4 separate regions of the Homo sapiens genome follow, and regions 1, 2 and 4 are each linked to region 3. Evidence: fine-mapped expression QTL. A gene starts in region 3. Each other region holds a variant in brackets. All regions are shown on one strand. Distances are between the middles of the regions.

Region 1 (8,108 bases), 130 kb before region 3:
TCAAAAGGGCATTTACTGACAATATTTTATATTAGTTTTTCCGCAACTCTAGCCAAATTATTTTCCTTTCGGAAGAAAGGAAAGAAATGGTACACTAGGATTAGAGGGAGCTGAGAGGCTGAATAAAGGCCACCTACCGTAGGGAAGGTCAGCACCTAGTAGGTTACCAGGATGCTCGGGGAGCACTGCATGGACAGATGGAGGAGGAGGAGGAGGCAGTCGGGAGCTTCTCTCAGCAAGTAACACGCCACTTCAGTTCCAGAAAAGCTAGCTCATGCACGCAAGCTTTTGGGAAAAGTTAGCAAATTTCCCAAAGGCAAAAAGGAAGCACATAATATGTTTGAAGACTATCCAGACCTCACAAATCTAACTGGATGTGATTTCCAGTAACAATTAGTTTTCTACAAACTAAATTTGTAGAAACAGTATCTCTTACAATAATTTCAGAGTATGTGTCATTATTTCTAAATATCCAAAACTGGACCTCCAAGTCTGTGAAAGTTTACACAGCTCACTGTCTTTCAAGATCAATCTAAAAATAAAGACATTCTCCCTAAATGGGGATCAGCAAATTACAATTTCCAGAGTGGATCCTCTCAGCTCCCAGTCAAAGGCAACCAGAAAGGAGTCACTTTCCCAGAACATATGCTTTCAAAAAAAAAAAAAAAAAAAAACAACAACTCAATTCACCAAATGAATTGAAAGTAACTCTGTAAGATGCTTTTCCCCCTTGCTCTTTCCTCTACCCTCACCTCTGCCTAATTCACCCCCAGTGCGAACACCAGTCAAGCCACAGACACAGAGCAAAAGGAAAAAATCTACGGCTGCAAGGCTTTTTACAGACTGGTAAGCAATTCCTGTCCAGATTCTTAGTCAATGAACTGTTCTAATAGCACCCCCTAGTGACCAAAAGCTCTTTTCTGACCAAAGGAACTCTCAGTTCTCAAATAACTAAAAAGCAAAGAATTTAAAATAAAAAAGCAGTGAAAACACCAATGAGCTCACACTCTGTGAACGCCTGTCCCTGTAACAGCCCCAGTGAAATCAGTAACTTTAACCTCTCTGGCCTACTGTTCTCTCAGCTCTAAAATAGGAAAAATAATATCCTCAACCACCCTTGCCCTCCTCCCTGTGAGCATGTGAGTTCCTCAATGAGATTTATTCCCAAGGCACATGGTCGGTTTTAAGCGAGAGGATGGGAAAAGGAAACACAAAGTGGAGAGAGGACATGTGCACTCAGGCCGATGTGGATCACTGGGAGTATTTTATATTAAACCCATAATATGCACGGTAACTGCGGAAGTGGGTCCACTTCTCCTTCACTGTTATTATTGTACATGTTGACTCTCTTCTACCCGTATTTACCAAGCTCTAAGGAGAACTGCAGAAACCAAAGAATTTTCTAAAAATAGCTTGAGACCACAAAATACTGGAAGCTCTCCAATCCCATCTTCAAAATTGAGATGTTTGTTTCTGACACGAATTATGTAAAATGCAAATGGTAGATTGCTTTGATTTGCTAATAGAAAATATAACTTAAAAATAGTAATAGTGAAAAGTCGTTAAACCATCACCCTTCAATCTCCTGCCCAGTAAAGTAGCACCCTAATTGACTAAGGTGTCTCTTGTTCATGGCTCAGTAGGGACCTAACACCCCTTTGATCCCTCAACTCCAAGTCTGAGGCCTTCGACAAAGCCAAAACTTTTGCTCAGTTAGCTTTCCACAATGGCACAGACTTAAAACCCATTGCTGCCCTCTACTGGGAAAACTTGGAACAAAACTAACATCATTCCATCAAGCATTTGAAATCACTCTCTCTTCTCTGCTTTAATGATAATGCATAACCTTCGATATTTTATAAGTTAATTATAAGATTCCAGGAGGGGAAAAAAGCAATTCTGTAGAAACTCAGGGTAATTTTCCCTCTTTATCGACTAAAAGAAGAAACTAAATGGTAACAAACTGGGATACTGGCTTTGGACTGTTAGGACATGATGATGCAGTTGGCCTTGGTTAAGGCTCGACCTCCTTAGGCCTTAATTTTCAGGCCTGTACACAGAAGCATGGAAAACTAGGAGATATTTGTGGTTCTCAATTTTAAAATCCTGTAACCCTTTAGGGATAGCTTAACTCACTTTTAATAGATGGTTTTTCCTTTTCTGTTGGTATTTCAAAATATTTATAGCTTTTTAAAAATCATTCTTAATAGTCTAATGTATCTTATCCTCTGGCCTAACCTATTTAACATATCTTATACTCAGAACTTTACTGATTGTTGTATGGCTGCAGTAATTGAGATAAATGTGACGTAAGCATCTAGCAGGATGCATAAAGGTGCACAATAAATATCGTTTTTCTCTCTTCCCCCTTCACATGTCCCCCATCTACCAGCTTCATGACCTTTCCCGTAGCTGTAGCACAGATGCTATGCCCACATACCAAAGCGCTTATTCTCTATTACTCTTTGAGTTTTGCATGTCTTGTGACGTTTGTGCGTTCTTCACAGAAAGGTGAGTTTCACTGTCTGTGCTATGTCCTTGTATCATGTGCACCTGAGTGCCCACTACTGGTAGCAGTGGTTGTAATGGAAACAGCTGTTCTAGCAGCAGCAGAAATGGGAACAGCAGCAGGGGTGCCCACAGCTGTGGCAGCAATCATAAATGTTACAAAAACAATCTGGACTATAATAACTATAGTAATAAAAGCAATATATGTGATTATTAAAAAATTTTGCTATAACCTGTGCCACTTATTATTTTGTCCCAACCACTATTATATTATGTATTACCTAATTTAGTCCTCCCAAACATAGCTATTATTACCATTACCACTTCATGAGTGAGAAGCTGAGCTTCTGACGGTATCTAACAACTGTTGATGCTAACCAAACTCTCACTAGCCATCTCTCTCCCCAACATAATCTCCAAAGCCTTTTTGTCACCTCCTTCCCTCTACACTTGCTAGAACCCTGGCAAACTTCCCAGATTCCTGCAATGATGCCTGCAGCATCTCCTAGTGCCTGTAGCATCTCCTAGTGCCTGTGAATAGCACAGACATCCTCCTCACACAATTTAAATGGTGGCCGACTCACTCTGAGAATGACAAAT[A/G]CGCTCCCATTTTCCTGTGTACACCACTTAACTCTGCCTACCTTCTCCATCTATATTTCCTTCCTGTCCTCTCCGTTCTCTTCTTCTTCATTCTGAGGTATGATTTGGTGGAAAGAGCATAGATTGAGAATAAGAACTGGAGTTCACTCCTGCTTATTTGGCCATGTGACTTTGGGCAGGTCCTTTTCACCTCTCACATTTCCATCTGTAAAGTGTGACAGTAACACCTGCTCTACCTGTCTTCAAGAACAATTGTTTGGGACAAATATGGAAGCATAAATGAAAGTGATCTGAAAGCTGTGAAAGAATATTGGCTGTGTTTGTATTTAATTCTCACTACTCTTAGGCTCTTCACACATACACGCCCCTTCTCAGGGCAGGGAGGGTTTACTGTAGTGAAAGAAAGCCCTGGTTCTCACCCACTGCCAGCACCTTGATGGATCGGAAAAGAAAACATGAAGACAGGTGAATAGGCAATGGCAATGAACTAACTACTGTAATTATTTTCCTTCTTTCTGTAGGCATCCATAGGCTTTTCCTCCATTTCACCCAAATTAACGGCAATGCAGAAACAACCTTCAATACCCATCTGCACCCCACCCCACCTACAGGACACTCTCTTCACTCCTGATTTCACTACATACTTCTAAAATGTCCAGTCTTCCGTAGCCACAATAATCATTCTCCTTATTTACATGACAATCACACTGCCACTGCTGACTGAGCACCTGCTATGTGTCAAACACGGCACCAGACATCCTGCACAGATCATCTCTCATCCTCACAGCAACACAATGTAAGTATTGTCAGCTCTGCCTTACAGGTTAGGCTCAGAGAGATTAGGCAGCTCACCCAACAAAAGATACAGATATAGCTCTTGCTGTTTCCAGACCAGGCATAGAGACTGGGGCAGCAGGTGCACCTCCACTTCCTGCCTAAATCTGCTAGCAAAGTGGTTTGTATTGTTTTGGTTTTTGTAAAATTTTTATTTTCGTTTCAGGGGCACATGTGAAGGTTTGTTTTACAGGTAAATTACGTGTTGTGGCGGTTTGGTGTACAGATTATTTCATCACCCAGGTAATAAGTGTGGTGCCCAGTAAGTTGTTTTTCGATTCTCACCCTCTTGCTATCCTCCACCCTCAAGTAGGCCCTCATGTCTATTGTTCCCTTCTTTGTGTCCATGTTTACTCAGTGCTTAATTCCTACTTATAAGTGAGAACATGCGGCATTTGGTTTTCTGTTCTTGTGCTAGTTTGCTTAGGATAATGGTCTCCACCTCCATCCATGTTGCTGCAAAGGACATGATCTTGTTCTTTTTTATGGCTGTGTAGTATTCCATAGTGTATATGTACCACATTTTCTTTATCCAGTGTACTGTCATTTTGGGTTTGATTTTGTTTGAGATAGGGTCTTGCTCTGTTACCCAGGCTGGAGTACAGTGGTGTGACTATGGCTTACTGCAATTTCAACCTCCTGGGCTCCATCAATCCTCCCAACTCAGCCTCCTGTGTAACTGGAAGCACAGGCACACACCACCATGCCCAGCTAAATTTTTTTTTTGTAGAGACAGAATCTTGCCATGTTGCACAGGCTGGTGTTAAACTCCTGGGTTCTAGCAATCCTCCCATCTCAGCCTCTCTAAGTGCTGGGATTACAAGTGTGAGCCACCACACTCAGCCAACAAGGTGTTTTTATACACAAGATTTCTATCATTCTATCTATCAATAAAATTCCTCATTAATAGCCTATGAATGTAGAGCCATGACATAAAGTATAAATGTTTCCTTGAAAAAAGATTAATGATTCAATACAGTAAATATATTCACTTTATCTTTTAATGTTTAATGTAATCAGTGAATGTAAATAAATCCATCCTATTAAGAAGTGATACTTGTGTTTACAATAAAGAAACTGGAAGGTCCCACCTTATGCATATGATCAAAGTGAACGTTGCCAGTAAAGGAATAAATCAATACCATGTGCCTCTTAATATGATACAGAGAAGAACCCAACATCACTTCTGAGGTATGTCTATCAAAGAGTGCATAAACTGAATCTGATCATTCAGAAATATCACACAGACCTAAACGGAGGGACATTCTATAAAATAACTGGCCTATACTCTTCAAAGGAGTCACAGATGGGAAAAGAAACACTGTTCTAGATTAAAAGAGACTACAGGAGGTGTAACAACTCAATAATTCTGAACTGAATCCTGGACCAGATACATGACATGAATGGGAAAATTGGCAAATGTAGCAAAATTCAAATAAGATCTAAAAAATAATAGTATTACATCGATGTTCTTTTCCTAATTTTGAAAACTGTACTGTTGCTAGGTAAGAGAGTATCCTTGTTTTTAGGAAATATACAGTGAAGTATATTTAGAGGTAAAGGGCATTCTGTCTGCAACCTACTGTGGAATGTTTCAAAATAAAGAGTAAGAGAAAACACATACGAAAATTCTTGGCACTATTTTTCTAACTTTTTTGTAAGTCTGAAATTATTTCATAAGAAAAAGTAAAAACAAGCCAGGCACCAATGGCTCATGCCTGTAATCCCAGCACTTTTAGAGGCCCAGGTCAGAGGATCACTTAAGGTCAGGAGTTCAAGAGAGCCTGGCCAACATGGTGAAATCCCGTCTCTTCTAAAAATATAAAAATTAGCCGGGCATGGTGGCGGGCACCTGTAATCCCAGCTACTCAGGAGGCTGAGGCAGGAGAATCGCTTGAACCTGGGAAGCGGAGGTTGCAGTGAGTGGAGATCACGCCATTGCACTTCATCCAGCCTGGGCAAAAGAGCGAGATTCCATCTCAAAAAAAAAAAAAAAAAAGTTAAAAACAAACAGGACAAGTTCTCAACACTTGTAAGTATTAAATAAATGTGAATTGAAATATTCCTACCCACTGATTCCTAAGCATATCAGTGGATCCAGTGGGGCCAAGGGCCTTGGGGCCTTGGCATGAAACCAATCTCATAGCCTAATATTAGAAATTCTGGGACCCACAAATAACATCCCAGTCTTTCCACTTCACAGCGGTTCCATCCAAAGACAGCAGCGATGTGATACCCTTTACCTCCTTCTGATAATGACTAAACATTGTACTGTTTAGTTAATTGCTTACTTAATTTCATGATTAAGAAAGTTCAAGCAATAACCCTCCAGTAAATCTACTTCCAGTGAAAACACAGGCAACCATAAGAAGGGAAAGAACTGCCTATTACATGTTTCCTCTTCATTCCCTCCTATGGCCAATATGTTTTTTGGATGAGCAGTGAGCATTCAGACATTTGCATAGCTACGAGCCCCTTGCCCTCTGTCCTGCCATATGTGGGTTATATTTTTTATTTCTATTTTTTTGAGGCGGAGTCTCGATCTGTTGCCCAGGATAGAGTGCAGTGTCACGATCCTGGCTCACTGCAACCTCTGCCTCCCGGATTCAAATGATTCTCCTGCTCAGCCTCCCGAGTAGCTGGGTTTACAGGCAAGTGTCACCACGCCTGGCTAATTTTGTATTTTTAGTAGAGACAGGGTTTCACCATGTTAGCCAGGCTGGTCTTGAACTCCTGACCTCAAGTGATCCTCCCACCTCGGCCTCCCAAAGTGCTGGGATTACAGGTGTGAGCCACTGCGCCCAACCCATATGTTGGTTTTAGAAAGCCACAGAAAGCATATGAATATGAGTGTGAGTGTGGTGCCTCAAGTATGTTATCACTAACATAAAACTTAGACATCAGCCAATTCTGAGGGTTAAATGTTCCTGTAGAAGATGCACACAGATTATGAGACCATCATTCTCAGCAAACTAACACAGCAACAGAAAACCAAACACTGCATGTTCACTCATGAGTGGGAGTTGAACAATGAGAACACATGGAGACAGGGAGGGGAACATCACATACTGGGGTCTGTAGGGGGGTGGGGGACTAGGGAAGGGACAGCATTAGGAGAAATACCTAATGTAGATGATGGGTTGATGGGTGCAGCAAACCACCATGGCACATGTATACCTATGTAACAAACCTGCACGTTCTGCACATGTATCCCAGAACTTAAAGTATAATAATAAAACAAAAGAGTTGATGTGAAACATGGGTAAAAATAGCAAGATACTGTCTGTAATACAAAGAAAAGGATATAATAAGAACTGATTTTGATAATCAAAAAAAAAAAGAAGATGCACACAGCCCTAAGCATCTACATTCAATTTTAACTGAACCATTGACTCCCTTCCCCACCTAATGAATTCAGTACAGTAAAAGATGGAACACCACGTGGTTAAGCTTTCAAACCCCAAGACATGGCTGGAGACAGGTCCCTCAGAAAGTCACAGGAGAGGCAGCGATGGCTACAAAGCCTTTTATTCTCATGCACAAAGATAGTGAAAACTTGAAAAAAAAGTTATACAGCTGCACTTAGCTCTGTTCTCATGGGTCATTACTAGCATGTTCTCATTTAGAATATATAGAGTGTCTTGAGGTCCAGGAACATCCAATCTTATATTACCCTTCACCACATGCCTGGGCCCCTCAGACTAGAGCCAAAGAAAATCAAGATGATCCCTAAACAACACTGTCAGCAAAAGAACCCAGAATGGACCAAATATTCTGCCTGTAGGAAGAAAATAAATATCCTCAGTTTCTACAATTACCACACACCCAAAAAAAATGTTTTGCATACTAAATTACCAAAGAGGCCATGTCGATCTTTTTCCATTTTCTATTTTTTCGTGATTTAGAGGAGTCAATCCGGATGAAGACAAGATCACCTACCCTCGTGGAATTATGTGGCTCCCAACAAAAACATCACATTTTGGCCAAACATGAGTATGACGGGCCTCTGCTTCTCTCCTGCTAAAGGGCAGCACTGGTGGGCTCCATGGGGCTTTCTAAGAACAGCCACAATACCAGCCCCTCTTCTCCTTTAAATATGAAAATTGTTCACATTAAAGAAAAATGCACATTGAAAATTATCTCTTAATGTTGGTTAGCAGAAGAGA
Region 2 (8,108 bases), 62 kb after region 3:
TAATTGCTCTAGCTAGGATTTCCAGTACTATGTTGAATAACAGTGGTAAAAGTGGGCAACCTTGCTGTATTCCTGAGTTTAGAAGAGAAGCTTCCAGTTTTTCCTCATTCAATATGATACTAGCTGTGGGTCTGTTGTATATGGTTTCTATTATGTTGAGGCATGTTCCATCTATACTCAGATTTTTGAGGGGTTTTACCATGAAGGGCTGTTGAATTTTATCAAATGCTTTTTCAGCATGAATTGAAATGATTATATTGATTTGTACTTCATTCTGTTGATATGATGTATCACACTGATTGATTTGCATATGTTGAACCATATTTTATCCCTGGGATAAATCCCACTTGGTCATGATGAATGATGTTTTCAATGTATTGTTGAATTTGGTTTGCTAGTATTTTGTTGAAGATTTCTCCATCGATATTCACTGAATATATTGGCCTGTAGTTTTCTTTTCTTGATATGGTATCAGGGTAATACCATCTTCATAGAATGAGTTTGGAAGTATTCTCTCCTCTATTTTTCAGAATAGTTTGAGTAGGATTGATATTAGTTCTTCATTAAATGTTTGGTAGAATTCAGTAGTGAAGCCATCAGGTCTTGGGGCTTTTCTTTACCGGAAGACTTTTAATTACGGCTTTGATCTTGTTACTTGTTATTGGTCTGTTTGGGTTTTGGATTTCTTCATGGTTCAATCTCGGTAGGTTTTATGCATCTAGGAATTTATCCGTTTCCTCTAGATTTTCCAATTTATTGGCATATAGTTGCTCGTAGTAGCCACTAATGATACTTTAAATTTCTACAGTATCAGTTGTAATGTCTCCCTTTTCATCTCTGATTTTATTTGAGTCTTCTCTGTTTTTGTTTTTTCTTTGTTAGTCTGGCTAAAGATTTGTCAATTTTGTTTATCTTTTCAAAAAAACAGCTTTTTGTTTCATTGATCTTTTATATTGTTTCTTCATTTCAAATTCATTTATTTCTACTCTGATCTTTATTATTTTTTTCACCTAATTTTTGGTTTTGTTTGCTCTTGCTTTTCTAGTTCTTTAATATGCACCATTAGGTTGCTTATTTAAATTTCCTCTTTTTTGATGTAGGTGCTTAGAGCTATAAATCTTTCTCTTAGCACTGCTTTTGCTGTATCCTATAGGCTTTAGTATATTGTGTTTCCATTATTGTTTGTTTCAAGAAATTTTTCCATTTCCTTCTTAATTTCTTCATTGACCCACTGGTCATTCAGGAGCATATTGTTTAATTCCCATGTGTTCATATAGTTTACAAAATTCCTCTTGTTGTTGATTTCTAGTTTCATTCCATTGTGGCCAGAGAAGAGGCTTGATATTATTTCAATTTTTTGAATGTTTTAAGACTTGTTTTGTGACCTAATATATGGTCTATTCTTGAGAATAATCCATGTGCCTGAGGAGAAGAATGTGTATTCTATAACTATTGGCTGAAATATTCTGTAAATATCTATTAGGTCTATTTGTTCTATAGTGCATATTAAGTCTGATGTTTCTTTGTTGATTTTTTCTGTCTGAAAGAGCTGTCTAATGCTGAAAATGGGGTGTTAAAGTCTCCAACTATTATCGTATTGAGGTGTATTTCTTCAGCTCTAATAATATTTGCTTTATATATCTGGGAACTCCAGTGCTGAGTGCATGCATATTTACAATTGTTATATCCTCTTGCTGGGTTGACCCCTTTATCATTATAATGGCCTTCTTTGTCTCTTCTTACTGTTTTGTTTTTGAAATCTATTTTATCTGATATAAGTATAGCTACTCCTGCCTCTTTTTTTGGTTTCTATTGACATGGAATATTTTTTTTCATCCCTTTATTTTCAGTCTATGTTTATCTTTATAGGTGAAGTGTGTTTCTTGTAGGCAACAGATCATGGGGTCTTTTTCTCATTCATTCAGCTACTCTGTGCCTTTTAGTTGGAGAGTTTAGTCCATTTACATTCAATGTTATTATTGATAAGTAGGGACCTACTTTTGTCATTTTGTTATTTGTTTTCTGATTGTTTTGTGGTCTTTTCTTCCTTCTTCCCTTCCTTCTTGTGAAGGTGATGTTCTCTGGTGATAGGATTTAACTTCTTGCTTTTTCTGTGTGTGTGTATCCATTGTATGGTTTTCAGTTAGAGGTTACCATGAGACTTGCAAATACTATCTTATAACCCATTATTTTAAACTGATGGCAGCTTAACATTTATTGTATAAACAAATAAGCAAAAACCAAAACAAAACAAAGCAGAAACTCAGTACTTTAACTTCATCCCCCGACGTTTTAGTTCTTTGCTGTTTCTCTTTAGGTCTTATTATGTCTTGAAAAGTTGTTGTAGTTATTATTTTTTATTCGTTCATCATTTAGTCTTTCTACTTAGGAGTAGTTTATACACAAGTACAGTATTATAATATTCTGTATTTTTCTTTTTAACTTTCTTTCTTTTTTTCTTTTTTTTTTTTGAGACAGAGTCTTGCTCTGTTGCCAAGGCTGGAGTGCAGTGGCATGATCTCAGCTCACTGCAACCTCTGCCTCCTAGGTTAAGCAGTTCTCCTGCCTCTCGAGTAGCTGGGAGTACAGGCATGTGCCACCATGCCCAGCTAATTTTTTGTATTTTTAGTAGAGACAGGGTTTCACCGTGTTAGCCAGGATGGTCTTGATCTCCTGACCTTGTGATCTACCCGCCTTGACGTGCCAAAGTGCTGGGATTATAGGCATAAGCCACCATGCTTGGCCTGTATTTTTCTTTAAGCTTAATATTACCGGTATGTTTTGTACCTTCAGATTTTGTTTGTTTGCTTGTTTTGAGACAGGGTCTTACTCTGTCACCCAGGCTTGAGTGCAGTGGTGTGATTATAGTTCACTGCAGCCTTGACCTGCTGGGCTTAAGTGATCTTCCCACCTCAGCCTCTTGAGTAGCAGGGACCACAGGCACACACCACCACACCCAGCTAATTTTTGTATTTCTTGAAGAGATCGGGTTTTGTCATGCTGCCCAGGCTGGTTTCAAACTCCTGTTCTCAAGCAATCCACCCACCTTGGCCTCCCAAAGTATTGGGATTACAGGTATGAGCCACTGTGCCTTACCCAGATGATTTCTTATTGCTCATTGACATTTCTTTTTTTTCACATTGAAGACCTCCCTTTACCATTTCTTATAGGATAGTTCTGGTTTTGATGAAATCCTTCAGGTTCTGTTTGTCTGGCAAGGTCTTCATTTCTCCTTCATGTTTGAAGGATATTTTCACCAGATATACTATTCTAGGATAAAAGGTTTTTTTCTTTAGTGCTTTAAGTATATTATGTCACTCTTTCCTGGCCTATAAAGTTTTCACTGAAAAGTCTGATGCCAGATGTATTGGAGCTCCATTGTATGTTGATTCTTTTCTCTTGCTGCTTTTAGGATCCTTTCTTTATCCTTGACTTTGGGAGTTTGATTCTTAAATGCCTTGAGGTAATCTTCTTTGGGTCAAATGGTGTTTTATAACCTTCTTGCACTTGAATGTTGATATCTTTCTCTAGGTTTGGGAAATTCTTTGATATTATTCCTTTGAATAAACTTTCTATCCCTTCCTCTTTCTCTACCTCCTCTTTAAGCCCAACAACTCTTAGATTTGTCCTTTTGAGGCTATTTTCTAGACCTAGTAGGCATGCTTCATTCTTTTTTATTCTTTTTTTCTTTTGTCTCCTCTGACTGTGTATTTTCAAATGGTCTGCCTTCAAGCTCACTAATTCTTTCTTCTTCTTGATCAATTCTGCTATTAAGAGACCTGATGCATTCTTCAGTATGTCAGTTGCATTTTTCAGCTCCAGAATTTCTGCTTGATTCTTTTCAATTATTTTAATCTCTTTGTGAAATTTATCTGATAGAATTCTGAATTCCTTCTCTGTGTCATCTTGAATTTCATTGTATTTCTCCAAAATAGAAATTTTGAACTCTCTGAAAGGCCATATATCTTCGGTTCTCCAGAATTTGTCCCTGGTGGCTTATTTAGTTTGTTTGGTGAGGTCCTATTTTCCTGGATGGTCTTGATGCTTGTGGATGTTTTTAAGTGTCAGTTAGGTATTTATTGAAGTCTTCACAGTCTGGGCTTGTTTGTGTCTGTCTTCT[T/C]GGCAAGGCTTTCCAGGTACTCAGAGCAACTTGGTCCCCAACCCCAATAACACTATGGTTCCTGCAGACTCACAGAGGTACCACATTGGTGACCTTGGATAAAATTCAGAAGAATAATCTGGATTACCATGCAGAGACTTTTGTTTTCTTCCCTGACTCTTTCCCAAACAAATGGAGTCTCTCTCTTTCTCTATCTCTGTGCTGAGCCACTTGAAACCGTAGGTGTGGTGATATAAGCACCCCTGTTGCCACCACTGCTGGGACTGTACTTTGTCAGACCTGAAGCCAGCACAGCACCGAGGTTACCCAAGGCCCACTGTAACCACTGCCTGGCTACCACCTAAGTTCACTCAAGGCCCCAGGGCTCTGTAATCAGCAGGTGGTAAAGCCAGCCAGGTTTGTGCCCTTCCCTTAAAGGCAACAAGTTCCTCAAGGCCCTGGGCAGGTCCAGAGCTGTTGTCTGAGAGCCAGAGATTGGAGTAAAAAACCTTAGGATTTTGCCTGATGTTCTTTTTTACTGCAGCTAAGCTGGCACTCAAACCAGAAGAGAAAATCCTTCTTGCTCTTCCTTCCCCTTTCCACAGGCAGAGGAGCATCTCCCTGTGGCCACTGCCACCACAGGCCCAGAGGTGAGGGGTGTATTCTCCCACACCACTGCAGATGTTCACTTAAAGCCCAAGGGCTCTTCAGTCAGTTTGTAGTGAATGCTACGAGGACCAGGACTCATCCTTCAGGGTAGTAGGCTACCCTCATGCCCTGGGCAGGCCCTAAAATGCTATCCAAGAGCCTAGGCCTGGACTCGAGGACTGCAAGAGCCTGCTTGTTGCTCTACCCCACTGTGGCTGTGCTGGTACCCAAGGTACAAGACAAAGTCCCTTTTACTTTCCCTCTGCTTTTCTCAAATGGAAGGAGTCTAAAGGAGTTTTTCACTGTAGCTGTCACACCTGGAAATGTGCCACGTCACACCTGAACTCAGCACATTCTCAAAGCCCAAGGCCCACAGTGTACTACTTGGGTGTTGCTGCTGGTTATTCAGGACCCAAGGGCTCTTTAGTCAGCAGGTGATTAATCCTTCCAGGACTGAGTCCTTCCCTTCAAGGCAAGGGGTTCCCATTTTTCCAGTGGGTTCCCAGAGTGTGTCTATAAATGTCCATGATCCAGGGTCTGGAATGGGGGGATACCTCATAACTCTGCCCAGTGCTCTATCTTACTGTGGCTGAGCTAGTATCCAAGATACAAGATGAAGTCCTGTTTACTCTTTTATTTCCTCCCCTTAAGCAAAAGGAAGGAGTCACTTTCATTGCTGTGAGCTGCACTGCTTAGGGTTGAAGAAAGAGTGGCACAAGCACTCTTTTAGCTGTTCCAGCTGGTGAGGTACCAGGTCACCCTAGTCCTCTTCTCTGAGCCCAGCTCAACACTAGGAGTTGCTTAGGAATTGCAGGCCTCATGTCCTAGACTGTCTTTCAAGTTTACCTAAGACCCAAGAGCACTTTGGCCTGCGGTGGCAAGGCTTGCCAAGAAACTCAAGTTCTGACCACCAGATGGGCAATTCCCCTCTGGCTAGGTCTGGTCCAAATGTCCCATCCTTGATCAGGTGCTGGCTGAACCCAGCATGGTTTTGTTTTCCTCTATGACAGGGCAGCAGTGAGTTCAATGTAAAGTCCTCCAAGTGCACAGACTCTCCACCCTGCACAGCTGCTGCCCAGGGATGGGGGAGGGGTGGTGTTGGTGATTCAAGACTGTCTCTCCAACTCTCTTTAATGCCTCTTTTGGTGATATGATATTAAAACCAGGTACTATGATTTCTCACCTGATTTTTGGCTCTTGTGACAGTGCTTTTCTGTGTGCAGATAGTTGTTAAAATGTGGTGTTCCTGCAGAGGAGACAAAGGGCATAGGCTTCTATTCTGCCAGCTTTTTCTGCCTCCTGGAGTATTTCTAAATGTGGGCTATTTATACAAAAGCTCCGGGGTGAGCTATTAGACTACAGCTGCCTATGTTCTTTATCTGTGCTGTTTAATATGGTAGCCACTAGCCACATGTGTTGAACACTTGAAATGTGGCACATGTAACTGGGAAACTGAAAATTAAATTTTACTTAATTTTAAGTAATTTCAATTTTACTTAATTTTAAATAATTTAAATTTAAATAGCACATGTGGCTAGTAACTACTGTATTGGGCAGATAGAGTATTGGCCTTAATTATTCCTTAAGAAAGAAATTAACCAAACTTCATTTCTAGAATGAATCTTTTTTCCTGAACTCTGAGTTTAAATGTCAGTTTAATAGACTCCTCTTTAAAAAAACAAAACAAAGCAAAACACTCCATCTGGCATTTTTTAAAAAAACTAAAAAGATGTGTTTTTGTTCTTTTATCAAAACAAAAGCTTGCTATAAACTTGAGAACCAGATATTTTTGCTGGATGAGCCTAACCCATCAGCCATTCCCCCTTCCACAGTGTGGCTTTTATAAGTTAAACATTTGCAGTGGTAACATAAATAATTTCTCTCCAAAATTAACACACACTGAATTTTGAGTGCAGAGAGACAGTCTCCACACTCCACCCCTCCTTAACCCATCTTTCTGTCAACATGACCTGTCTCACAGAGCTGTTCCATGAATTGATTCATTTATGAAATGTGCTTTTTTTGCCCTTAAAAAGAAGACCTTACTGTGTATAGAAATTGAAAATTAAAAATAAATGTGAACTCACTTGGTTTCTTCAGACTATCTCTTTGATAACTTGCCTTCAACTAAAACAGGACTGAGTTTGGTTAATAGTCTTATCCAACAGACTCTGGTTTTTGTCTCATCCCAAAAGCTAAATATATATATAAAGCTCAATCATCTTTATAGGAGATACTTTAATTTACCACAGAGCCACAGTTTTACCCACAGTTATTTTTAGAAGCACACTCATATTGGACAATTGTATTCTCTGCCACAAGAACTAAAGTTAGGTGCCAAAGATTCGTTTTTCTTCTCTGACACTCACTGGGCACACATTCTCTAAAATTATTTTTTGAATGTCTGACCACTCAGAAATAAATCCAATGGCCAAATATAATTTTGAGGTAATTGAAGTGAATCTGGAAAGAAAAATGATTCGTTTTTGATTCTGTGATAAAAAGGCTAAGATATTTCATTTGGAAAATAACATATTTAGGAAGTCTAATTTGTACAACTTGTAATAAAAAGGTCTTTTAATAAACAATTGACATACCTGGGTTTTAGTAAACATACTTTAAAAACCGAGTCTGGAAGAACATGTTTGAAAAGAATTACAATTTAAATTTAGTTAGTGGTTTGTACAATGAAGTATTTTCCACTCCGATGAAAACTTACAGCTAACTTAAAAAAGAATATGATATTTTCCCCCAGACTCTCTAATATAGCGGTTTGAGAGATTTGTCACGAGTGTAACAATAATTTATTCAAGAATACAAAGCCTATGCAAGTCTATATATAGTCTAGAAAAGTATCATGCAAAATCATGTTTAATTTAAAATGCCTGCTACTGAAGAAGGAAAGTCATATATCAGAAATGTACCAAGGGGATATGTGAGTAAACAAGTGCTATGAAATTCAGGCCGATGCCTTAGGAGTTTTCTCCTGTGAGTTTGAATATTAAAAAGAATTATGCACTGAAGGAAGTATATTTGTTCCAAAAGTTAATAACAGTGCGTGACTGGCTTGGTCTCTAAGTCCAAAATAAGATCGATTAAATCTTTCATCCATACAATATGGGTAAGGACAAGTGCATGAGAAACACATAGATATACATTATTTATTTCTATTGTACTTAGCACAGTGGGATCTGTGCCCTTTAAAAATTAACTACTTAGACACTGAGGTGGGTAATTTGAAGTCAGTGATGGATTTCTTTTACAGTATGTTTCCTGTCTTCACCAAAGAAGTGATAGGAATAAAGGAACTCAAATAATAGCAAGAATTTTGCCTAAGGGGTAAAATAAGCTTCCTAAATGA
Region 3 (8,108 bases):
AGAAATTAGTACTTCAATGACTACAATTCTTTGAATGAGAAGTTCATTGAGGCTGCTCCATTCCATTACGGATGGCCAAGTAAACACTTATATGATTCACTTTCATTCCCTGTTTAGCAAATCTAGGTAATATTATTAACACCCCCAACAAATAAACTAAGTTTTCAACTGGCATAGCTTTAAGTGCCCCTTATACTTCTAAAGGTAGGGGTACCTACTTTTGGGGGCTCAACTCACCCCCAAATTCCTTCTTTAGAGAGGTAAGGAACAAAGATTAACAAGGCTGAAGAGTATAAACAGGTCGGAAAGCCTCCAAAAAGACAGAAATATTTGAAATCTACTAAGACAAGGATATCAATGTCTGGAAGAAGGAATTTAATAATTTCCAACATTTTTAACCCCTCTGTAAATATAAAGCTCCCTCCCATCGATTTTACATCATTTCCAGGTCATGAATAAACTTATGAACCAGAATACTCCTAAGAGCATTACAATTTCTCCACTGACGTTTTAAAACACAAGAACAACAATACAATAAAGAGAAAACTTTATTTTTAGGTTTGCAAAATCCTGTGTTTATTTTTCTAAAACTGAAGTCAAACAACTGAACCTGCTTTGTTTGGATTTTAGTAAACTTATTCTCTCTTAATCCTGGGGGACCAAACTCTGCCCAGAAGGAAATGAAGAAAAAGTCCTCCGTGCCCGTGCCATGCTGGAAAGTTAAAACACGGTGCCTCCTTTGGTTTTCTGTTCAGGCACATCTGAGCCTCCTGCTGCTGGTCACGGTTCACACTGCTGGAGTCATATCATATGACACCTGCCGTATGGCGGGTAGAAGCAAAGGCTGTCAACTGGCATTCATGTTGAAACTGGTTCAGTGTTTGAACTGCTAACTTCTGCGTGTAATGTTTAAGCAAAAGTGCTTAACCACAAGTTCAGTCTTAATCTCTCAACTAGCATTAAACCCTAAATGGAAACAGGTTTGTAATTCCTTATAAACATTAAGCCCTTGCGAAAAACCTATTCCAGCAATTTGATTTTTCAATAACAGGGCCTCCACACAGGCCAACTCTTTCTCTTTTAGTTGGGAAAATATGAGATAAACTTTAAATGTAGAAAAGCCCTTCCCACAATGCAAATGCGCAAAAGTCAGGGTAGAATAAGCAGGTGTTTTTGTTCTCAAATTCCTCAGGTAAATTTCTTTTTTTCCACTAAACTGACCAACCATAATTAACACTGCTGGGACTGCAAACAGAAAGAAGTCCTGCCATTAATCCCACTCAACTTAAACTAAGATTTTATTAGTTCACAAAAAAATACTGTTTTCAAAAGGCAACGTTTGTATTTTAACCCTAATAATTGACCAAGTAGGTATATAAATTGATTATAACTTCTCCCAATCCTATGGACTCTATGGAGAATTATGTGGCAGATACCATTATTCAACTTTTATGGCCCACCTCTTCCTGTCAGAGTTCACAGCTGGTTAGTGAAGGCAACAGTGGAAATAATTAAGCACCTTACAAACTCAGACTTAAAACCCAGCTCAACTACGACCTCTACTAAGAAATACTCTGCTTCCTTCTCTTTCCTGGCAGTCACTCCCTCCTTCGGGCTCTCCCAGTACTTACTCATCACATCCTATAGGATCCTTTCCCTATGTCTCCTAACAACTTAGGGCAGGGATCACTTTTGTTAATTTCTATATTGCTAGCAAGTGGGGCAATGCTTGGGACACAGCAGGCCTTCAGATCTTGTTGCGCAAATAACAACTATGAGGTTACATGCTATGAGGTCTGTAAAAAGAGGGGCAGAAGAAACCACGGCATTTTGCCTTGAAAGAAGCAGAAGGCTTTTCAAGGAATATTCACACTCACCTTGGAAGCGGAGTGAGATTTAGTACACAAAGATGGGCACTCACAGGAGGGAAGAGCCTCTGCAAGGCAGCAAAGAATGGAAGACCAGATGTGCGGAAGACAGCGGTGTATTCAGGAAGCAATCACTGAAGAGTAGACAATGGGAGGAGGCAGGCAGGTTGAGGGTACAGGGCCTATATGCCAGGTTAAAGAGGTTTCCATGGAATATTCCAGGCTTTGAGAAGCCCCTGAAGCTATTTCAGGCAGTGACATGAAGACTCATCCCTTTAGAGTCTTTGGTCAAAAATTATGAAAGATCTGGGTTTTCAAAGAATTTTGTCTACAGATGCCTATTATAGGTTATCTGAAGCTTGTATATATCCTAGGTTACGGACCTGCCCAACATTTTCTCACATATTTTTATGTATATATTTATATATATATTTCCGTCTATGCTGTTTTATTCCCCAATAGCAGGTGATAAAGGCTCATTTAAACACCTAGTGAAATTTTTATATCTGTTTTAATTTTTTTAAAAGGAGGTGAAGAATTTTTTGAAGTGAAAGTTAGAAAAAATACTTAAGATAAATATTCTGAACTCCTTTTTCATCGCTGTACTTATATACCAAGATTCTGGAAAGGCAACATCCCATCCCTGCGTCAGTAAGGTTAGACGCTGAGGGCCCACTTAACCTGGAGGCTTCCCTAAGTGACAAGACTCTCAAACTGGATGATCCAATAGGGAAGGTTCTAAGTCAAGGGACAAAACAAATCTCCTGGCCCTTCAAGTGCTTGGCCCAAGGAAAAGTAACGCCGAGCCCTGCGACTCTGCCAGGTATTTAAAAATGTAAGATAAGGTGATATTTGTGAGCCGGCCAGAAGGCAACGAAAGGCAGAGAGCAGATCACCGGCAGCCTCGGATTTCACTCTTGCAGCTCGGCCTGAAACAGAGGGAAGCATCGGCCCGGTGCAGGGCAGGAGGCCAGGGCACCCGCTTTCCCCGGGGAGCCGGACTGGGCGGCAGGCGGCGCACCCTGGCACGGAGGGAGGCGGGTACCCGGGCGCGCCGAGTGGCGCGGAGAGCCGGGCTGCAAGGCGGGCGTGGAGTGGCGGCTGTCAGGAAGAGAGGCCAGCATCCTCCCCGGCCTCAGAAAAGCACTGGGGCCTCCGCGGCTTCTACGTGGCCCCGTTACCCACGACGAGAGGGTCACGACGGGAGGCAGAGGAGCGGCTGCGCCCGCAGAGTCCCCCAGGACGCGGCCCCCGGGGCCCTGGAAACCCAGGGCGGGGCCCCCGCAACCACACCCCACCCGCGGCTGCCTGTCCGCGTGGCCACCGGCCACGGGCTGCGGTCCCGGCACGCGGGGGGAGGAAGATGCGGCGGCGCCGCCTGGTCCTCCGCTCCACCGCCCCGGCGATCCCTGAGATAAAAGTTTGCAGCATGCGGCTCGTCTGCAGTGCGAGTCACATCCGCCGCGCCGCCTCCTGCAGCACCAACGCTCATAGAACGAACAAATACATTAAAAATTAAAAAAAAAAAAAAAAAAAAAAAAAAAACTGTTGAAGCCAGTAGGCCCCGAAGCCGGCCTCTCTGCCTCCAGGGCGTGCATGCAGGCTAGCCCAGCATCCCGCGCCCCCTCCCGCCCGGCCTCGGCGCCCGGCCTGTGCCGGCCCCGCCGCGCCCGCCGCACTGACCGATAACCTCCTGCAGCTCGTACGCGTCCCTGCAGATGGGCCAGCCGACAGCCTGTGCCGCCGGGGCCGGGGCCGGGGCCGGGGCCGCGGGAGCTGCCGGGGCCGGCGCTGCTGTCGCGGCCGCCGGGGCCGCCGCCGCCGCCGCTGTCACCGGGGCCGCCTGCTGGGGAAGCTGGACGTGCACGGGCGAGCCGCTCGGCTCCGCCATGATGCTGCGGAGGAGAGCAGGAGGACGCGCCGGCCGACGGACGACCTTCCACTTGAAACTTCCTTTGCCTCGCCGCCGACACCTCTCGGCCGGCGCACGCCCTCCCCGCCCGCCGCCGCCGCCGCCGTCCCCGCCGAAGCCAGCTAGGAGGGGAGGGAGCAAGGGAGGCCGAGCTGGGCGGAGGGAGGAGGCAGCGCCGGCGGAGGCGGGGAAGGGAGGAGGCGGCGGCCGCTGCGCTCGCCGCGCGCCCAGAGCCTAGCGCGCGCTGTTCTCCGCCTCGGCGAGGGGAACCGCCGCCCCCCCTCTCCGCCGCCCCCTCCCGCTCCCGCTCCGCTGGCGGCCGGGGAAGTTCCCACCAAAGGAGTCAGGCCGCTTTGTGTGTGCTTTCGGGGCCACCGGCCCTGGTTCTCCTCCTCCCTCCCTGCTCGCCCTGCGCCTTGGCCCCAGACGATCAGGCTTGCCGGAGGACGCCCCCTGGGGACCCCGAGGGCGGGGTCGTTGAACGGCCGCCAGGTTCTCACATTCAGAATTCTCCTGCCACCAAAGAGAACCTGAAGTTCATTTACAAGTTGACGAGCGGGATACCTACATGGTGTCCCTTTGCAAGACGCCAGTTAGAAAATAACCCAAGTTGTAAGTTTCCGGCGCTTTACTTGCCGGTATCCCTTTCCCACCTTGCCTAATCTAATCGCAGTCCTTCTAGTTTTTCTTAGTAAATGAAACTTGATTCCTTAGGTCTCTGGCTGTTCAGACTTCATTTTTTCCAAGCCGCCTGGATCCCAGGGAGGCGATTTAAGGGGCTGTGGAATTAGAATAAGACATGCAGGAGAGGTTTAGAAAGTTTGCTCAAATTCTACACCCTTAATAATTGCCACGTTAGCCCGTGAGGACACTGAGGCCAGACATCAGGCGTTTCTTTAAGAGCGTATACTTGGTGGGGAAATAATTTATTGGGGCATGAATAAACTGTGTTGGAAGCTTTTAATTGCTGTTTTTTCAACACCCCAAAAATAACCTCGTCTGTAAAACTGCTATGGTAAAACCATAGGTTTTCCTAATTATAGGTGTCATATTTAACAGTGAATGTTCTCTGTGTTCCCTCCGTGGAGGTGACCAGGATCCACCGTTCTTGTCTCCAACTGAAACGGGGCAGTAAACCAATAGTATTGGTCGTTTGGCCAAGATGATCTTGTCTGGTTCTCATTGCTAGGACTGCTGAAGAAATAGGTAAGAATAATGAGGATGTAATAAAAACTCTAGGGATATCATGATTTTGTCTCCCGAGTGTATGTACAGAAATCTCACTAAAATTTTTGAAAGATTATTCAGAAGAAGCCCAGAAATTTATTAGGAAAGTTAGTTGTCTAATCAAAACATTGATGTCCACTGAAGATGAGGGCACTTAATCTCTTGGAGCATTACAAAAGTTGGAGTAAAGCAGCTACCTCGCTCTGGTCTTGAAGCAGAAGTTCATGCTGAACTAAGTGTACATTCTTTGATGCGGAGGACTTCAAAAACTGTGTCTTGTCATGTCTGTCAAGAAACAGAGCCCTTCATAAACAAATTCTAGGCCTCTGAGGAACAGGGGAGCTCTTTATACCAAGCCATGGCTGCTGACCTCTTCAAGTGCTGCCTCCACCCTACCCCAAAGAACTTTTAAGGACTGTTTTTAAAGGAAAAGAAAAATGATCAAATGAATATGACTTCCATTTTGTCATATGAATTTCTATTTTTGACTTTCAAACCATGAAGTGGGATTATGAAGACCAGGAATGTTCTTGGGACTTAGTAGGAAAACATGATGCCGTCAAGATCAATATCACAGAATTGAATCAAACACAGATCAATTAGTCTCCCACAAAAAGCAACTGTTCCCCAGTCACAGACTACATGTCGGTCTCTAGTCAACCGCTTTCCAAATGGCTACCAGGATGAAGACTTGCTTGAGTGGATGACTCAGTGCACATCCATCATTTCTACAGTAAATCGGTTTAAAGAAGAATGTCCCCTGGCATTGCTCTTTGGCATCATTTTTATAAATGAAGAACAGAATATGAATAATATTTTAAAATTATACAAAAGCATTAGAGTTAATGTTTCTGTAAACAATTGGGTAAAATGGTACTTAAAACTTAGAAATATATGTTTTTTAGAAGTATTCAACTGATATGCACTTTTCCCGGAAAATCCATTACTAAATTTAAATTGAAAGATGGGGATGGAGGCGGGTGCCTTTAAAATATAAACAAGGTTTATTTCAATGCATAAAGAGTACATTCAGTGAGCGATGTTAAAAATAGAAAGGAAAAATAAGGGTCTAAATGTTTTTAAAGTGTATCCAACTGCCTCATGATGTGTCAGGGTTTCTCAATCTCAGCGCTGTTTTGTGTCAGATAGTTCTCTTCGTTGTAGAGGTCTGTTCTCCTGTGGTATGGTCTGAATGTTTCTGTCCCCCCAAAATTCATATGTTGACACTTAATCGGCAGTGGAATAGTATTAAGAGCCTTTAGCAGGAGATTGGGTCATGAGGACAGAGCCCTCCTGAGTTAGATTAGTGCCCTTATAAATGAGGCCGGAAGGAGCTTGATGAGGATGCAGCTAGAGGCATTAGCTATGAAGTAGAGGGCAAGCCCTCAGTAAATACCTAATTTGCTGGCACCTTGATCTTGGACTTTCAGCCTCCAGAACTGTAAAAATGAATTTCCGTTGTTTGTCAGCTACCCAGTCTAAGGTATTTTGTCATACCAGCCAGAGCAGACAAAGGCACCCTGGCCTCTATGCACTAGATGCCAGTGGCAACCCTGCTGCTGACATTGTGACTATCAACAATGCCTCCAGACATTGCCAAATGTCCCCTGGAGGGTAAATAATGCTTTAGATGAAGTAAGTATACATTTTCATTTTATAAACAGATTATTGCAGTGGTTATTTGTATTACAAAGAGGTTTCGTAGAGTTCCATTATTTATTCATAAACCCTTTGAACATCTAAGAGAGGATGTGTAGTGAAGTGGCCAACGCCTTGAAGAAAGAAAGTACTGGATTCAAATCTGGACTTCGATGTTTTGTTTTGTTTTTTGAGACAGAGTCTCGCTCTTGTTGCCCATGCTGGAGTGCAGTGGCACAATCTCAGCTCACTGCAACCTCCACCTCCCAGGTTCAAGCGATTCTCTTGCCTCAGCCTCCCAAGTAGCTGGTACTACAGGTGCCCACCACCACGCCCAGCTAATTTTTGTATTTTTATTTATTTTTTTGTTTTTGTTTTTGAGACAGAGTCTCGCTGTGTCACCCAGGCTGGAGTGCAGTGGCGTGATCTCAGCTCACTGCAAGCTCTGCCTTCTGGGTTCACGCCATTCTCCTGCCTCAGCCTCCTGAGTAGCTGGGACTACAGGCACCCGCCACCACGCCTGGCTAATTTTTTTGTGTTTTTAGGAGAGACGGGGGTTTCACCGTGTTAGCCAGGATGGTCTCGATCTCCTGACCTTGTGATCCACCCGCCTCGGCCTCCCAAAGTACTGGGATTACAGGCGTGAGCCATTGCGCCTGGCCTATTTTTGTATTTTTAGTAGAGACGGGGTTTCGTGTTGTATTTTTTTGAGACAGAGTCTTACTCTTGTCACCCAGGCTGGAGTGCAATGGCACGATCTCGGCTCACTGCAACCTCTGCCTCCAGGGTTCAAGGTATTCTCCTGCCTTAGCCTCCTGAATAGCTGAGATTACAGGTGTGTGCCACCACACCAGCTAATTTTGTGTTTTTAGTAAAGATAGGATTTCACCATGTTGGCCAGGTTGGTCTCACACTCCTGACCTCTCAGGTGATCCACCCACCTTGGCTTCCCAAAGTGCTTGGATTACAGGCGTGAGCCACTGTGCCCAGCTCAACAGTTTTTCTAGAGACAAGGTCTTGCTCTGTCACCCAAGCTGGAGTGCAGTGGCATGATCATGGCTCACCGCAGCCTCGAGCTCCTGGGCACAAGCAATCCATCTTCCTCAGCCTCCCAAGTATCTGGAATTACAGGTGTGTGCCACCATGCCCAGCTAATTTGTATTTAATTTTGGAGAAGCAGGGTTTTGCTATGTTGCCCAGGATGGTCTTGAACTTCCTGGTCTCAGGTGATCCACCTCAGCCTTCCAAAGTGATGAGATTATAGTGTGAGCCACCATGCCTAGCCTCATTTTTTTTAAGTCTCTGCCTTTGGACTTACTTCACTCTCTGAGTCTCAGTTTTCTCCTGTGCAAAAATCAGTACAATAATAGCTTCCACATGGGTTGTTATAATGGCTTAGGATAATGGATGACACATAATAGAAGTTTAACAAAATGGAAACCACCACCACCATCATCATCATT
Region 4 (8,108 bases), 64 kb before region 3:
TGGCAAAAAAAATGGCTGAGACCTCTAACAGAATACCACAATCAAACACAAGTATCAGCCAGGTGCGGTGGCTCACATCTGTAATCCCAGCACTGTGGGAGGCCGAGGCGGACAGATCACCTGAGGTCAGGGGTTCGAGACCAGCCTGGCCAACATGGCGAAACTCTGTCTCTACTAAAAATACAAAAATTAGCCGGGCGTGGTGGTGCATGTCTGTAATCCCAGCTACTCGGGAGGCTAAAGCAGGAGAATCGCTTGAACCCAGGAGGCGGAGGTTGCAGTGAGCCAAAACCACACTGCTACACCCCAGCCTGGGCAACAGAGTGAGACTCTGTCTCAAAAAAATACAAAAAACAAAAACACAACTATCACTGGCAAATTCTTGAGTGATACATCCAAACAGTACATATATTTAAATGCACACTCCAAATTTTTTTTTTAAATGTTAAAGTACACTTATGCATAGCCACAGAATTTCAGGATTCCTAAAGGGATCTTAGAAGAAAACTTCCAATTCAACTCTTTTTAAATCGCGCAGAGCTGTTGTGTAACTCTACTAAAGTGAAAACAAGTTTAGTGGCAGAAGCAGGACCCAACTCTCCCCACAGTTTATAAAATGCGTTTTCCAACTCAGAGAAAGTGACCTTGAAAACTGGTTGGGTGACAAAGGCACAATATTACTGGTCACTAAGATAGCAAGCAACAGACAAGTAGCATGCAGCAGGAATTTCAGTAAGAGCAAAGCACAGCTGAAATTTCAAGGCCGTTAAAAGCCTTGAATGTATGCAAATTTCAAAAATTAACATTAAATTGTGGAAGCCCTGGTTCTCTTCTGAGTTTTAGCCGGCAATCCATTGCTTCAATAAAACCCAATGAAATCTATGCATTGTGTAGCCTAATTTAAAATGTAAGGCCAAACAGATCTGGAAAAGTACAGCTTTATCCTTGTACTTAATTTATACTATAGTGTACTGTAATTAAGCCTAAAATAAAAGCTATATTCTGAGTAAAGACAAAAAGCTGTTGTTAATGACATTCCATTCTCAATGTAGACTGTAACAAAAGGCTTCTTCATTTGCAGCCAACTGTCATTATACTTTGTAGCTTGTATGGAGCTACTGGACTAATATTTGTACTGGGATTAGTGTGGGGATAACCAATCAGTTAACTCCTCCACTGCAGTTTTCTATTATCCTCAAATAAATGGCCAAAAGGGAAAAAAAGAAAATTGGCCGGTAGAACAACAACGATATTTATGAGATTAAACCCTCAAACCCTTCACAGTTTGCCGGGCAACTAATAACCATTTGCCAAGCTGTTCATTTAATAATGAGTCAGCTAAGCCAAAAGCAAATGTTCCTTCAACCAACCATTGCTACTATAGTCATATCCACACTGACAAGCTCCAATTATTTATATAAAGTACTCATTTAGAATAAGAAGTACAAATTGCCACGTTAAGAAAAACAAACTCCTCTCATTAGCCAAATGCAAGCTACAGAGCATTTAAAAAAAAAATAACTCAAATTTGTGTGATGCTATAATTTATGAAAGCTAAAATGACCAACAAATAGTTTGGGGGACAACTTCCATTTGTGTCACACATTCTAGATGGAGGGCCAGAAGCTCACCATCCAAAACTGCAGTCAGTAATCCTGTCATGTTAGGTCACGCCACAGTGTGTGCCCTTGATACAGCAAGTGGAGTGCCAACGCTGAGGCCATTCTCACCTTGGGATTATTCGAACTGAGCAAAATACTGTTTCTCAAAGCAAGGGAAGGTGTTCATTATACAACACAATCATAAGGTACAGTCCCATTAATCTGGGGAGCAGGAAGTGGTAGGGGCTGCTTTCCAAGAAATGCATATGTCAAAACTGGAGATAACACCTTGCTCTTCTCCCAACCATCCCCATATACCCATAGATTAAGAAAAGCAACCAGCAGGTATTCCCTGCACTGTTACTTACTAATAGTTCATCCATACTGGTCTGGCATTTTTCCAAGTTGATCCGTTTTATTGCTACACGTTCTTGCCTGGGTTTGCATAGGGCTGCCTGAACCACAGCAGTAGCTCCACTGCCTGCAATGAAATAAAAACAACATCAGCGATCAAATGGCACACTGTGAGGTTACTATCTGTAACTATTTTCCTAAAGATCAATTTTTTTAAACTCTTCTACTCAGCGTATTCAGAACATTACCATTTGACATCTTTTTTTTAAAGAGTTTCTTAAATCCTAAAATAATTATCTGGAGGAGAAAAAAAAAACTGCATTTTCCAGACAATGTATGTCTGAGGACACAGGGGACAAGGGACATGAGCATCTACATACAACCTTGCATGAAAGCCATTTCCATCCTCAGTTCCTGGTATTTTCTAGCTTGAGTGCCTTTAAAATATCTCAAGCTCTTCTTCCACCTCAGCCCAAACCAAACCACTCTGGTCTAAGCTACTTCAAGGCTTTCATGAGAAGCTGAGATAATTGATGTTTGAACACTCTTTGGGCTTATTTCTTCAGAGCTTGCTCCACAATGAGAAAAACAAGAATCAACCCTAGTATTCTCATGTTGAAAGCACAACTTTCAAGGATGCCAAGCAAAATGATGCAAATGTGTAATTACAAAAGCTCTTGACATTCATATAAATTTTCTATTTCTAAGGTTTCATGATCATTAGCTAATGCACTCAGACTCCTAAGAGACAGAGTCATGTCATTATCCATATTTTATAAGAGCAAAATGTAGACATGTAATGATTTGCGGCAGAGCACAAAAGAACTCCTAATCGGCTTTATACTCCATAGGGGCAAAAAGGTTTTCAGGTTAAGGCATCTCAATTCTGCAAATAACACCAAAACTGCCATTCTCATCACATAAATCCTCTACCACTGCAAGATAGCCAACAACAGAAACAGCCTGCACTCAGGATTGTGCAAAGGTGGTCAGAGGTGACAATCTTTCTCCCTAAAGTTTTTCTTCAGGTAATACTTCTCAAATGATTCATCAAATAGCATCATAAAAGGGAAAGCAGGGGAGTATTTGGCAACAAGAGAGATCAGTATTAGCCTTCCTAATTTATGTGATAGAAAGGCATGACATTTCTAGTGCGAATCAGGGCTTTCCCACCCCAAGGAAGGGCCCAAATGGGTGTTTACAGGGGTGAAGCTCTGCCCTTTCTTCCGCCCTGTGGCCTCATCATCAGGTTTGGCCCCCGACTTGGCAACCCCAGCAGATCACCCTACTCCTCCAAACCCAGGTCTCCAACTTAAAGACTACCATTCCAGGGAAGCCCAATTTGTGTTCACTGGGAAAGAAAATCCACACACACATACTGACCACCCACTGCACAGTAGACACTTGACTCCTTATGAGCCTGTACATTTTTATTACTAGCCTCATTTTACATGGGAGAAAACCGGGACTCAGAAAACTTGCCCAAGGTCACATAGAGCTAATAAGTACCTGAGCCAGTATCAGCATCACGCCTGCCAGACTCCGAGATGTGTGCTTTTGTTCTACTTCCCACAAGCCAGAGCACATGCTTCCCTTCCTCACTTGTTTTGGCCTTGCTAGGAAAAAACTTTCTTCCATCCTATATGGTTCAACAGAAGACAAACAACCCAGACCAGGGTCTGCATGAGCCTCATTTGCTAGAGCTGTTTGGGAAGAGAGTGCTATGGACAGGTTGCTTCAAAGGGCCTTCCTCTCCCTAATCTCACTGCTCATCCATCAGCTGCTACCCCATTGGCTGCTACTCCAGGTCCCACTAGTTTGGCTTCACTGGCCCTGCAGATCACAGCCCACTGGGTTCAATCCAGAATGGTCCAGATGGCAGAGCCAAACAATACAAAAAGTCTGCTGATAGCAAAGTATATTTTCCAGTCTCCGGAACAAGACACTATCACTGAAGGGAGCCACAGAGAAAGTGCTATGCAGCTGGTTAGCACTGGGCCTGGTACCCAGCAGAGAAATCAACTAACATCTTTAGCTGCTGGTGGGAAACCATCCTCAGCTCTACCTGCAATAAATCTCCCCCCAGCTCAGCTTCTCCATCCTTAATCTACATTCCAGAACATTCACAAATCAAGGAGTTTCAAAAACAGGAAAGAATAAATTAATTCCCAGAAAGGACAAAACAAGCGTATGTAATACAGAGATACCTCTCATAGTTAAGTCCTTGACAGTAAAAGTCTCCTAACCTCCAAGGAACAAAAAATAAGAATTCTAAAAACATGGAGGGGTAGGTGGTGAGAAAAATCTTTTATTAAAGCTTTACAGCTAGAGAATTGTTACTGCTTTACAACTACAGCTAACTAAGGAACGACTGGCTACTTCTCATCTCTAGACAGAATTATGAAGCTTTGTGACCTGAGATCATTGTCACAACATGGATGGATTTAACCATTCATTAAACAGTTTGGGAGATTCTACTCTAAATCCAAAGATTTCCCTTCAACTATAGAAGAGACCAAGAACAAAGTTAAAGGTGGAAAGGCACCTTAGAGAGCATCAAGTCCAACCCACCCCCTCACTTTATGAATGAGAAAACAGGGTCCTGTGAAGGATAGGGATGTGTTTCCTGCAGCAATTGGAAAGCACAGGATTAGGACCCTAGGCATACTTATTCCTTATCTACCATTCTGTGCACCAGGTTGGTGTTTTTTCAAATTGCCAGTGAGGATCCACTGGTCACAAAATCAACTAACTGGGTGGAGGCCAGCATTGTTTAAGGGAAGCATCAGAATGTAATAAGGGTAAAAACTGCTTTATGAAACTTTTGTTTCACTTACGCCCAAGCTTTAGTATGACATGTTTTACTGTAAGTGATGATCAAAAGTTTGGAGTCTGCTAGTACTAGATTAGGATTCCCAGGATTAGAGTAAATCCATGCTTTGAAAGGAAAGGAGGTGACCTAACTGCATAATTCTAAAGGACATTTAGAAATAATACCAACACTGTCTTGCTTTAAGGGTTTTTATGCACTTTGCTGATTAGTTTAAGAGGAAGCTAAAAAATGTGGGGCTTGTAAATACAGGAA[C/T]TGGACAAGTGTTAGCAACATGAAATAAAATAAGAGCAATTACTATGCTGAACAGCACCTTGTATTTATTTTGAACAATATATGATACTGACACATGACTCATTAACATTAGTAGCATATTTTCAATGAAGTATCATGCACCCCTTTTGGAATAAGAGTTCTTAACATTTTATGAATTTCTCATTTTATTCCTGACTCCTATTTCAAGTGCAATAAATCATTCAATAGGATTATGGCCTGTATGCACATATGCACAAGTTAAGTGGGCACGGCTTTAAATCTTTTCAGTTCACTCTTTTAAGTCACTCTATCTCAATTCACTTTTGCTAAGTAATTCCCGACTAAGAACAGCTACTTGGAAGTTTTAGATAGTGATTATGTCAATGGCAATCAGAGGTAAGAGATTGCTCACGTTCATTACCATGATGCAGATTTTTCCTTTAGTTGACACCTCTTCTCATTTTCCCCTCTGTACTGCTGCTGGTATTAAGGTAAATAACCAGAACACTGCATACCTGCATTTTATACTTTCAGTTATCCAAAGAAATATTTCATGGAAATATAATTTAGTATTCTAACTTTGCATTTCACTAAGGTCTATGTGAAATTAACATGAAAAACTACAGTGTTTATTTTGCAAAAATCACTACTATTGTCAAATGCAGTTTCAACAGTATGTTCAAAGTCCCTACTCCCATGACTCACACAATAACTTCCTCTTTGCATTTAGTGCATTTAGTGCAAAAAAGCAGCAAAAAGATATTTGCTTATATTAATTCATCAACAAACAGTAATTAAATCCCTGCCATGTAGCAGGCAGTTCACTAGATAATAAAGTGCCAAAGGTGACCATTCCTGCTTCAAGTGGAATAAATCCTTCTATAGGATCACTTCCTCTGCAGAAGTTAACAGGGATGACTAAAATGCTGTTGTGGACTGAATGTCTGTGTTCCCCTAAAATGTCTTTGTTGAAGCCCTAATCCCCAATGTGACTATATTTAGAGATACAGTTAACAGATAATTACCACCTTTATGGAGGTAATTAAAGGTTAAATGAGGTCATCAGGACAGAGCCCTGGTCCAATAGGATTAGTATCCTTACAAAAAGAGACAATAGAGAGCTTACTTTCCCTCTCTGTCCTATGAGGACACAGCAAGAAGGTGCCTGTTTACAAGCCAGCAAGAGAGCCCACCAGAAACTGAAGTGGTCAGCACATTGATCTGGACTTCCTAGACTCCAGAACTGTGAGAAATACATTTCTGTTGTTTAAGCCACTCAGTATATGGTATTTTGTTACAACAGCCCAAGCAGACTAATACAAAAGCCTTGAAATGTCTGTTCAAAGTCATTCTTCCACTAACACCTATGGCAGAGAATGCCATACTAATTAGAAGTTCTTAGAAGCTTCCTGATTAAGTCAACAGCAAATGGCAAGATTCAACTGAAAGGCCTCTGGTAGCTCATTGTAGTTCCCATCTTAGGTTAGTAGGAGCCTTGAAAAGAAGGTTAGACAGGGATTCTATCCAAACGTGGTATTGATTCCCTCTGTGACTTTCGACCTAACTGCTATCTAGACTTCAGCTTCCTTAATGGGCATAATAAAATACACCTTTAAGGCTTCATAACATAATATATTTCACATCCCTGGAAAACATCAACTCAATAAATGTTAGGCTCTCTCTCTGGGACTCATTTCTCCATCTGTGACATAAAGGAGGTAAACTATATCTACTGTTTATATGGCACCCAAGGGAAAAGAGGGCAAAGTGGCTCAGGGTCAGAACTGAGTTTCATTTTGCTTAGCACCAGGAAGATTAGACTGGTTTAAAAGAGAGGCTAGGAGAGCTAAATTTGGAAACCAAAGAACTAAATGATTTCTAAAGTCTGATACAGCATGATGAGCATAAGAGTTTAAAATATAAGAGACAATCCAATTCAGAAACAGCTGTGAATTAATATTCCATAGCAAAGATTGTCATGTATAATGCACTTTGATATCTAACCTTAAAAAGTTATTTTAAGGCCGGGCATGGTGGCTCACGCCTGTAATCCCAGCACTTTGGGAGGCCAAGGCAGGTGGATCACAAGGTCAGGAATTTGAGACCAGCCTGACCAGCATGGTGAAACCCCGTCTCTACTAAAAATACAAAAATTAGCCAGGCATGGTGGTGCATACCTGTAATCCCAGCTACTCAGGAGGGTGAGGTGGGAGAATCACTTGAACCCGGAAGGTAGAGGCTGCAGTGAGCTGAGATCATGCCACTGCACTCCAGCCTGGGTGACAGAGTGAGACTCCATCTCAAAAAAAAAAAAAAGTTATTTTAAAATATCTATGTCAATCCAGATTGCATGGGTTCATATCCCAGACCTGCCACATACTAACTGCTTATGCTTGGATGACTTGCCTAACTTCTTCATGCCTCAGTTTCCTCATTGGTAAGACGGCAATAATGCTACTTCACTCATAGAGTGGTTGTGAGGATTAAATGAGTTAACACAAAAAAAGTCTTTGAAACTGTGCCTAGCACATAGTAAGCACTAATTAAATCTTAGCTAGCGTTGCTCCTTAGGGAAATCCCCCCAGGTCAACTGGTGTCCTGTCAATCTGTCATTTTAATACCACGTAATATTTCATAGTATTAATGTACCATAATTTATTCAGCCCTCCTTCTGTTGATGAGTATCCCCTTTATTTCTAGTTTTCATCCCCATATGAACAATGTAGCAATAAACATCTAGTACTTTTTTTAAAAAAATTAGTCCATAAGAACTTTACGTTAAAGTTAAGACGTCAATTGTCCAGTAACCCCTTCCCATAAATGGCAAGATTTTTTTCAAGGCATCACATTAGCCTGTAACATTAGTTATGGCCCCTGGAAGGAAGTTCTAATCACCATATTATATTTAAATGAGAAGCACAAAGTTGGAACTTTAATAAGAGTTTGACCATCTCTTAGCACGTGCAAGAACTCCTTAAGTATGCTCAGCTGTCCTTTGCCAGTGAACAGAGTCAAGAGTGGGCTCAGGCTTTCTTTTTAGAGGTGCTAGCTGGTGATGGATAGTAAAC

Direction of the effects. Alleles are on the strand shown, and positions count from the first base shown. SD is a standard deviation of normalised expression in the study named. Not every link is listed here.
For the expression in prefrontal cortex of the gene that starts at base 3,919 in region 3, G is the low allele of the variant in region 1 and A is the other (small effect, 0.29 SD a copy in CommonMind).
In carriers of allele C in region 2, the expression in caudate of the gene that starts at base 3,919 in region 3 tends to be lower than with T alone (small effect, 0.33 SD a copy in GTEx).

Evidence for each region.
Region 1: its variant is fine-mapped to the expression of STK39 in prefrontal cortex (CommonMind, PIP 0.95).
Region 2: its variant is fine-mapped to the expression of STK39 in caudate (GTEx, PIP 0.96).
Region 4: its variant is fine-mapped to the expression of STK39 in monocytes (TOPMed, PIP 0.97).

The regions. Positions count from the first base shown.
Region 1 is chr2:168,117,950-168,126,057 of GRCh38, forward strand. The region is part of intron 10 of STK39 (serine/threonine kinase 39); the gene reads right to left. Among named protein-coding and RNA genes, the nearest start is that of STK39, 130 kb to the right of the region's middle. The variant A/G (reference allele first, on the strand shown) is at 3,109.
Region 2 is chr2:168,305,652-168,313,759 of GRCh38, forward strand. No RefSeq gene overlaps it. Among named protein-coding and RNA genes, the nearest start is that of STK39, 62 kb to the left of the region's middle. The variant T/C (reference allele first, on the strand shown) is at 4,121.
Region 3 is chr2:168,243,677-168,251,784 of GRCh38, forward strand. STK39 (serine/threonine kinase 39) reads right to left here and starts at 3,919. Exons shown (of 18, transcript NM_013233.3): 1 at 3,552-3,919. The coding sequence starts at 3,759. It overlaps LOC107985959 (a long non-coding RNA gene), which reads left to right and starts at 4,285. Exons shown (of 5, transcript XR_007087282.1): 1 at 4,285-4,392. RefSeq lists silencers at 2,805-3,004, 3,025-3,114, 3,205-3,254, 3,615-3,664, 3,875-4,124.
Region 4 is chr2:168,180,009-168,188,116 of GRCh38, forward strand. STK39 (serine/threonine kinase 39) reads right to left here. Exons shown (of 18, transcript NM_013233.3): 2 at 1,970-2,082. Among named protein-coding and RNA genes, the nearest start is that of STK39, 64 kb to the right of the region's middle. The variant C/T (reference allele first, on the strand shown) is at 5,041.